Linked DNA regions of Homo sapiens: region 2 is linked to region 1. Evidence: fine-mapped expression QTL. A gene starts in region 1. The other region holds a variant in brackets. All regions are shown on one strand. Distances are from middle to middle.

Region 1 (4,521 bases):
TGAGTTCTCACACAATGGCCACTGCGTGTTGTCACCATGTGCCCTGCCCACAAGCCTCGCACGGCTTCCATCCACCTAGAACACAGTCCCTAAAGACCCAGGGTCTCAGTTTTCCTGTCCTCTTTGCTGAATGGGAGGTTTGCTCCTTGCTGGGCCTGGGATGTTTTCCTTTCTGCTGGCCTCGTGGCTCCCTCCTTTACCTCCTCCAAAGGGTCAGATGTCACCTCTCCAGAGAGGCCTTCCCTGGGCACTCCCGTCTCTCCTGCATTTTTCTTTATAGCAATTACAGAGGCCTAAATTGCCTGATATGCAAATATGTCATTTATCTGCCTCCTCCCTGTCTGTAAGCTGCATGAGAGCAGAGTCTGGTACTCAGCGGACACTCAGTAATTGTTAAATGAATGAATGACAAGGTCCCAGCTCCTTCCTCCCTACAGAAGTCCAAGGTGCTGTGTGCATATGTGGCCTGGCCAACTTCTCCTGCCTCCTTTTTTCCCACCCTCTCTTTTCCCCGTCGCACCCCAAGGACACTGGACTTCCATTGGTGAGAAATTTTAACAATGGGATGGTAGCAAACATTTATGGATTAAGAGCAGCCAGCCGGCACCAAGAGCCCTCGTGGACCTTGAGCCCTGTCAGTGCTTGTTCACGGCCAGGCGTCCCCACACTCTTCCTTCTGCCTGGGCCCCCACCTCCCAACCTGGCCAGCTCTTATGCAGCCCCTGTCACCTCAGTTCAGACCTCACCTCTTCGCAGCTCTCCCAGAGTGCCCTAGAAGGGGCGGCTGCCCCTCGCGATGTGCAGCTTACCTGTGGGCACTCTCTCTTTGCCCCTCACATTGAACTCCTGGAAGCGGGGACTGTGCTCCAATTGCCACAGGGGCCTGAAGCAGTCCCCCAGCTCTGAGCACCATGGACCCCACCCTGGCACCTGCTCCTCACTCCCTCCTGCCCTTCTGGCCATTGGAGGGTCTCGGGTCTGCCTGCTGGAGGCTGAGCTCCTTGGGGCGGGGCCGCGACTCCCCCAGCAATGCAGATCCGGATTCAACCACTGCGTATGAACTCCTACCATGTGCCAGCCCTGTGCTGGGCAGTGCTGCAAACTCCACTGCAGCCTCCAACAGCCTGGGGTGCCTACTTTGCTGACTCTATTTAATGGCTGGGGAAACTGAGGTAGAGAGAGGTAACATGACTTACCCGAGGTCCCTCAGCCAGGGCAGAGCAGAGCAGAGCAGGGACTCTGGGCTAGGGCCATAGGGGCATCTTTCAGTGAAACCATTAGGCCCTAGAGTCCTGAGAGTGTGGGGGACTGGGTGGGGGTCCCTTCCACACATATAAACACACTCACAGACCCACAGATGTACACAGATGGAGACACGCGGAGGGATATACGCACATCTATTCATGACACAAAAATTCATAGATGCACGCCCTTCCTACACAGACACACACACGAACACACATACACATACATGCCAACTCTGAGCCTGTGAGCCCAGGGTCCTGGGCTTAAGTCAGTACATAGGTGCAATGTGGGGCTCCGGGCCTGTCTCCTACACCAGAAGGCCCAGGTGGGGTACCGGGTGTGGAGGGGGCAGCATGTCCAGTCCTGCGAGGCAGGGGTAGGGTGGCCTCTCCCTTCCTCCTGTCCCTGCCACCTGAATCCCAGGCCACCAACCACCCAGCACTGATGCTGTGCCTGTCCACACACCTGGTGTCACCCTGCGTGGTCCCTCCCCTCCCCAGCTCTGTGGGCCCCTCACCTTCTGCTCACTGATCACCCTCTGGCCGATGAGGCCCTGCAGGCCTGGCCTCGGAGCAGGGTAGGTGGCTCAGGCTGCAGGGAGCCAGGCCCAGCTCTTAGGGTGGACACTGTCACTAGGTCATTTATAGATCCCGGTCCCCTGTCCTGGAGGCCCCCGCTTACCTTTGGGAGCGGCAGATAGGTGCCGGGCCTGCACACAGGCCTCAGGAGCCTCTGTTTGTCCAGGCCAAGGCCTCCCCACCCCCACCCAGCCAGCCCAGGCTGGATCAATGGCCTAGAGCCATGACCAGGGTGTCTGGCCCTTGTCCCCTGTGGCCTGTGGCCTCAGGCTCCATGGAACTCCTCCTGCTGGGTCCTGGACAGCACTGTGACTAAGTACAGGTAAACAGGCAGGAGGTAGGAGAAGGCAGTGCCTGCCCCGCCCCATCTTCCCCCACCCCCGCATGGGCACCCCAGAGGCTGGCAGGCAGGTGCGGGAGATCTGAGCTCTCCCCCGAGGCCCGTTGCCTGGTGACATGCCTGCCTGGTTACAGCCCCTGGTCCCCGAGAGCATGAGGTAGGGACAGCCAAGGACTGGGGACTGTGCAGAGGCCGGTGCAGGTGAGTGCAGGGGCTCACAAGGGTGAGTCCAGGTGCTTACCTGGACAGGCGAGACTAAAGGAGCTGCTGGCCTGAGAGAGAGAAAAGGAGGCTGGGCCCATATACTCTGGGGACTGGAGAGGAGAAAGGGGAGGCAGGGGTGGGGTTTGATGCTATTTTCTGTTTAGCTGGGAATTATTTGAATTCCTACCTCGTTCTTTTTTTTTTTTTTTTTTTTTTTTAAGATGGAGTCTCACTCCGTCACCCAGGCTAGAGTGCAGTGGTGTGATTTCGGCTCACTGCAACCTCCGCCTCCCGGGTTCAAGCAATTCTCCTGCCTCAGCCTCCCAGGTAGCTGGGATTACAGCGCCCACCACCATGCCCGGCTAATTTTCATAATTTTAGAAGAGATGGGGTTTCACCATGTTAGCCAGGCTGGTCTCGAACTCCTGACCTCAAGTGATTCCACCCACCTCGACCTCCCAAAACGCTAGGATTACAGGCATGAGCGACCGCACGCAGCATGAATTCCTACCTGGTTCCGTAGCGCTGTGCTGTCCATGACGGTAGCCGCTGGTCACCCGTGGCTCTTGAGTCAGTCTGAACTGAGAAAAGCTGCACGGGGGAGACGCACACCAGGTTTCCAAGGCCAAGTGCAAACAGGATGTCAACCAACGCGATAACAATTTTTATATTGATTTTATGTTGAAATAACACTGGTGATCATGGGATAAATAAAATGTATTATTAAAAGCAATTTTCTTCTGGCTCTCTTGTTTTTTTTTTTTTCAGAGACAGGGTCTCATTAGGTTGCCAGGCTGGTCTGGAGCTCCTGGGCCCACATGATCCTCCTGCTTCAGCCTCCCAAGTAGCTGGGATTACAGGCGCGGGCCACCACACCCCTTGTTGCATGTGGATATTAGACAGGTTAAGTCACAAGTGTGACCTGCGTTGTTGTTCTATGGAACAGCGTTGCTGTGGAGATGGGTTTGAGCCATATGCGTGCCGAAGTGCCGGATGGGAGCCAGGGCTTTCTAGGGTGCGTGCAGGGCAGCGGGCGTCTGTCTCAGACAAGGCTGACTTTCAGCGAGTCTACATCCTGAGGCCAGAATGCGGGGTGCACGCCTGAGATGCTGTGTGCTGTGGGCATATGGGTCCCAGAGTGTGTGTGTAAGAGAGACAGTCTGGAATTTGTGTGTGTAGATTATGTATGTGTAGAATGTGCGTGTGTGTGTGTGTGTGTGTGTGTGGAGCGTAGGGATTGTGTGTGGGGTATAAGATTTGTGTGAGAGGTGTGTCTGTGAGGTTTGTATGGTGTGGGGTGGGGGGTGTGTGAAGTGTGTTGTGTGGGCATATGGACTGTGCATGTGTGTGCAGTGTGGGTGCTGGGAATGTGCAGTGTAAGGTGTGTGTGTCTTTGAGGTACGTATGGTGTGAGGTGTGTATGGAGCATGAGAGGTGTGTGCAGCTGTGTGTGTGTGTGTGTGCATGCTCACAGTATGTGTGGAATATGAGGCATGTGTTTAGTGTGAGGTGTGTGCATAGTGTGAGGTGTGTGTGTAGTGTAAGGTGTATGTAGTGTGAAGCATGTGTGGAGTGTGAAGCGTGTGTGTAGTGTGAGACGTGTGTGGAGTGTGAGGTGTGTGTGGAGCGTGAGGCATGTGTGGAGTGTGAGGCGTGTGAGTGGAGTGTGCAGCGGGTGTGAAGTGTGAGATGCTTATGGATTGGCTGGGATGGGACAGGGCCCCGCGCCCGGGCTTTGCCGTGACCGCCGGTTTTCAGCCCTACCTGGCTCCCTTTTAGTTGTAGGAACCTGGGCAGATTCCCTGACTTCTGAGCGGTGCTTCTTCCATCTGTCGAATGAAAAAAATTCGCCCCTTCTTGATGAACGGGAAACAACGTGTGCGAAGGCCCAGCACTGTGGGGGGCGCCGAGAGCGGGTTTCTCCTCTTCTCATGGTGACACGCTGGTGTGTCGGGGCCAGGTGTGCCTGTGCACTGAAGTCCAGGCAATGACAGGTGGCATGTGTGTGGTGCCTACCTGTGTGGCCCCTCACGCATGTCTCAAGCACGTAGATGCCCCATGCTCTCTGGCGTGTGCTCCCTAAGGGGGCCTGTAGCAGTAGGCAGGTACCTCCCTGACATGTGCGTGGGGGGCACCCCTGTGTCCTAAGGTGTG
Region 2 (4,000 bases), 23 kb after region 1:
ACCAGTTCAATGGGAGAATCTCTATGCTTCTGACACATAGGCAACCATGGCTTGCTTGAATACCTTTATAGATGGGAATCTTGCTACCCTCAAGGCTGAGGGAAGAATTTTAAGGAAATACATTCCCGCACATTAAGAGTACTGCAACTAATGGCCAGGCACGGTGGCGCACGCCTGTAATCCCAGCACTTTGGGAGGCCGAGGCGGGCAGATCACCTGAGATCAGGAGTTCAAGACCAGCCTGGCCAACATGGCAAAACCCCGTCTCTATTAAAAGTACAAGAATTAGCCAAGTGTGGTGGTGTGTGCTTGTAGTCCCAGCTACTCGGGAGACTGAGGCAGGAGCATCGGTTGAACCCAGGAGGCAGAGTTTGCAGTGAGCTGAGGTCGTGCCATTGCACTCTAGCCTGGACGACAGAGCAAGACTCCATCTCAAAAAATAAATAAATAAATAAATAAATAAAAGCACTGCAACTAAGATATTCTCATCTTGGGAGTTTTCCAAGGAGTTCCAGAAGGGGCCCTTGATCAGCCCTGATAGAGAACTCCAAAGCCAGGTCATGACAGCTCTGGTCCGGCATGGCTTTCCTCCTCCGCCACTCTTCTTGACCTCCCTCTGCCCCTACCTCATCCCCACCCCCCAATCTTGGGAGCCTAGAGTGGGGCTAGGGTGGTAAAAAGTACCCCCCATGTCCCCCCTTCATTCTTGAAGCTTCCTGCCTGAAGGGGGCATGGGCTGGGGAAGAGGAGACGACGGAATCTGAGATGGAGTTTAGAGCGTTACTGATCTGCGGGCCGGCACTTTAAAAATGAATCGGTGTTTTGTGACTCAAAGTGACGGGAAGACTTGTTAGTATCCACGCTAAGTTATGGAGCCTGCTCAGGAATTTTGAGCAGGGACAGGAGAAGCACAGAGCATGTCTGCACAGACAGTGGGGTGGAGAGAGCTTGTGCTGGCAGGTCCTGTTCGTTCAGCACACCGGCAACGGTAATACCAGATAGGGTACTTTTTTTTTTTTTTTGAGATGGAGTCTCACTCTGTCGCCCAGGCTGGAGTGCAGTGGTGCCATCTCAGCTCACTGTAACCTCCGCCTCCTGGGTTCAAGCGATTCCCCTGTCTCAGCCTCCTGAGTAGCTGGGATTACAGGCATGCACCACCAGCCCGGCTAATTTTTGTATTTTTAGTAGAGACAGGGCTTCACCATGTTGGTCAGGCTGGTCTCGAACTCCTGACCTCGTGATCTACCTGCCACAGCCTCCCAAAGTGCTGGGATTACAGGCATGAACCACTGCACCCAGCCTGATAGGGTTCTTTTGAACACTAACTGCGTGCCAGGCAATGTACTCAGGGCAGGACACATAGTAACACTGTTTTTCTCCTCATCTAACAGGTGGGGAAACTGAGGCCCAGGGAGGCTCTATAGGCCCAAGGTCACACAGCCAGAATGTGGTGGAGCTGGGATTAGAACCCAGGCAGTCTGGCTCAGATGGAAAGTGCCAGAGCTGGAGAAGAGACCCATGCACACCCCGGAGGCTGCTCACTTCGGCGTTTTGTCTCCTCTCACAAAACACAAAATTAGCTACTAACCTGCCACCCCCTCATCCCACTCACACCCCTGCCCACCTCTGTCTCCCCGCCCCGGCCTCCTACCTGGACGTCTCCTCCATGCTCTGAGCTCAGCTGGGAAAAGAACTTCGAGGGGTCTGGGGTGTTACACTTCAGGACCTTCTTCAGCCTGGACAGAGGAGAGGAGGGAAGGAGGAGGGTGAGAAAGGGAAGGACCGCGGTGTTATGCCATCGGCACCACAGCTCTGGATGCCAGGCACGGAGCC[G/A]CACCACATTTACTTATGTATTTCTTCCGCCGATACTAAGTGTTCACTGTGGGAGGACGCTGTGTTGGGCACTGGGGAGACAAGAATGGCCAACAAAGGAGGTCCCTGCTCTCAAGGAGCTGACATTCTCATGGGGAGATGGACACAAAGCATGTTGCAACATCACCATTCATTCTGTGGAGACAGAGAGCACAGTGCTACACAAGACGGGGAGGTGGGGGTCGATGGGGGTGAACACACAAGCCAGAGTGGTCAGGGACGGAGATGGCTAGAAGAAGTGGAATGAACCAGGAGGCGGGAGAGAGGAGATGGGCTTTCTTGTCAGGGCTGCCATGGATGGTGGTTCAGGTTGTACACTGCCCAAGGGCATTAGGCTTGGGCAGGGAGTGGGAAAGGTGGTGGTGAGTGAGGCTGAATTCCAGCCCATGTTCTGCTTGCTAAGCTGAGTGCCTGGAAGCTGTGTACATCACCGTGAAGAAAGAGGCACCATTTTTGATTTGCCCAAAGGTTCCACACAGCTGGTGGAGGCCCTCAAGGGCCAGGGTGTACTGCAGCGCAGTGAGCGGCCTCTGAAGAGTGTTAAACAGGAGAATGACATGGTGGAGAAAGCACTGAAGGGGCGCAAGAACGACAAGGAGGAGGGCAGTCTGGAGGCCACTGAACCCATGCCTGGGAGAGGACCTCTCCCTCTACAGGGACATGGTTTCCCTGAAGGCCTGCAGGGAGCTGTGGGCGGAGGGGACGGGTGGGTGGAGGAATGCTTGTCTTCTTGGGAGGAAAGAGGAAACGGGGCTCCGAACACTGCCGAGAACCACTGCTCCAGGACGAGGGTCAGGAGAGCGGCAGTCACTCCTAACTGGCTATGTGACCTTGGGCAAGTCAGCTGACTTCTCTGGCCAGTCCTGGCATCAGTTAAAAGGCAATGGTAGCCCCTGACTCACTGCCTTCCCAGTGCTGGGGAAAGTCGAGTGAGGTGACACAGCTAGGCACGCTTTGCAAACCTCTTGGGAGAAGCAGGGCTCTCATCAGGGGGCCACAACCCCCGGTCAGAAGTGTCACCTCCTCACCGCTTTGCCCTCCACCAGGCCACGCTCCACACAGCAGCCAGGGCTACAGAGGGCGAAGTGGATCCTGTCCCACTTCTGGGGAAACCCTCCATGACTGCTCGGCACACGGCCCAGGTCCTCACCACAGCCTGAGGCCCCAGGAAGCATCACTGCCGCCACAGGCCCAGGCTCAAGTTCAGCCTCCTGCCCCACCCACTTCTGTCTCCAGCCACACCAGCGCCCCTGCACTCTGTTCCTGGAAGTTTCTTCCCTCCTGCCTGCCCAGGGCCTTTGCACATGCTGTTTCCTCTGCCTGGGACACTCTCCCCATCCCCTCCACACCCCCCATGGGCTCCCACTACAGATTTCAACAGAATCATCCCTTCCTCAGGGAAACCAGCCCTGGCCACGCCCCAGCCAAGTTTCCCCTCCCTGTTTTCTGCTCCTGATACAGTCAGCACTCAGGATCCGTGGGTTCTGCACTCACGGATTCAGCCAATCTCTGATCAAAAATATTCAGGAAAAAAAAACCCTCATAGCAATACAATAATAAAAAATAATACAAATTTTTAAAATACAGCATAACAACTATTTACATAGCATTTACATGGTATTAGGTATTATAAGTAATCTAGGAGATGACCTAAAGTCTCTGGGAGGGTGTGTGTAGGTTACACGCAAATATTCTGCTGTGTTAAATCAGGGACTTGAGGCCGGGCGTGGGGGCTCACACCTGTAATCTTAGCATTTTGGGAGGCCAAGGCGAGTGGATCACCTGAGGTCAGGAGTTTGAAACCAGCTTGGCCAACATGGTGAAACCCCGTCTGTACTAAAAATACAAAAACTTAGCAGAGCACGGTGGCGTGTGCCTGTAGTCCCAGCTACTCGGGAGGATGACGCAGGAGAATCGCTTGAACCCTGGAGGTGGAGGTTGCAGTGAGTCGAGATTGCGCCACTGTACTCCAGCCTAGGTGACAGAGTGAGACTCTATCTCACAAAAAATAAATAAATAAAATAAAACAAAAATCAGAGACTTGAGTATCCACCAGCTTTGGTATCTGTAGGGGGTAGGGAGGGTCCTGGAACTGGTTTCCATGGATCCTAAGGAATGGCAATACGTC

Evidence for each region. PIP is the estimated chance that this variant, and not a neighbour inherited with it, causes the effect. A credible set is the group of variants that fine-mapping cannot tell apart.
Region 2: its variant is the best candidate, but not a certain one, in a credible set for the expression of TMPRSS6 in whole blood (TOPMed, PIP 0.60).

The regions. Positions count from the first base shown.
Region 1 is chr22:37,107,577-37,112,097 of GRCh38, forward strand. It overlaps TMPRSS6 (transmembrane serine protease 6), which reads right to left and starts at 2,137. Exons shown (of 18, transcript NM_001374504.1): 1 at 1,927-2,137. RefSeq lists an enhancer at 367-868.
Region 2 is chr22:37,130,733-37,134,732 of GRCh38, forward strand. IL2RB (interleukin 2 receptor subunit beta) reads right to left here. Exons shown (of 10, transcript NM_000878.5): 9 at 1,652-1,736. Among named protein-coding and RNA genes, the nearest start is that of IL2RB, 17 kb to the right of the region's middle. The variant G/A (reference allele first, on the strand shown) is at 1,834.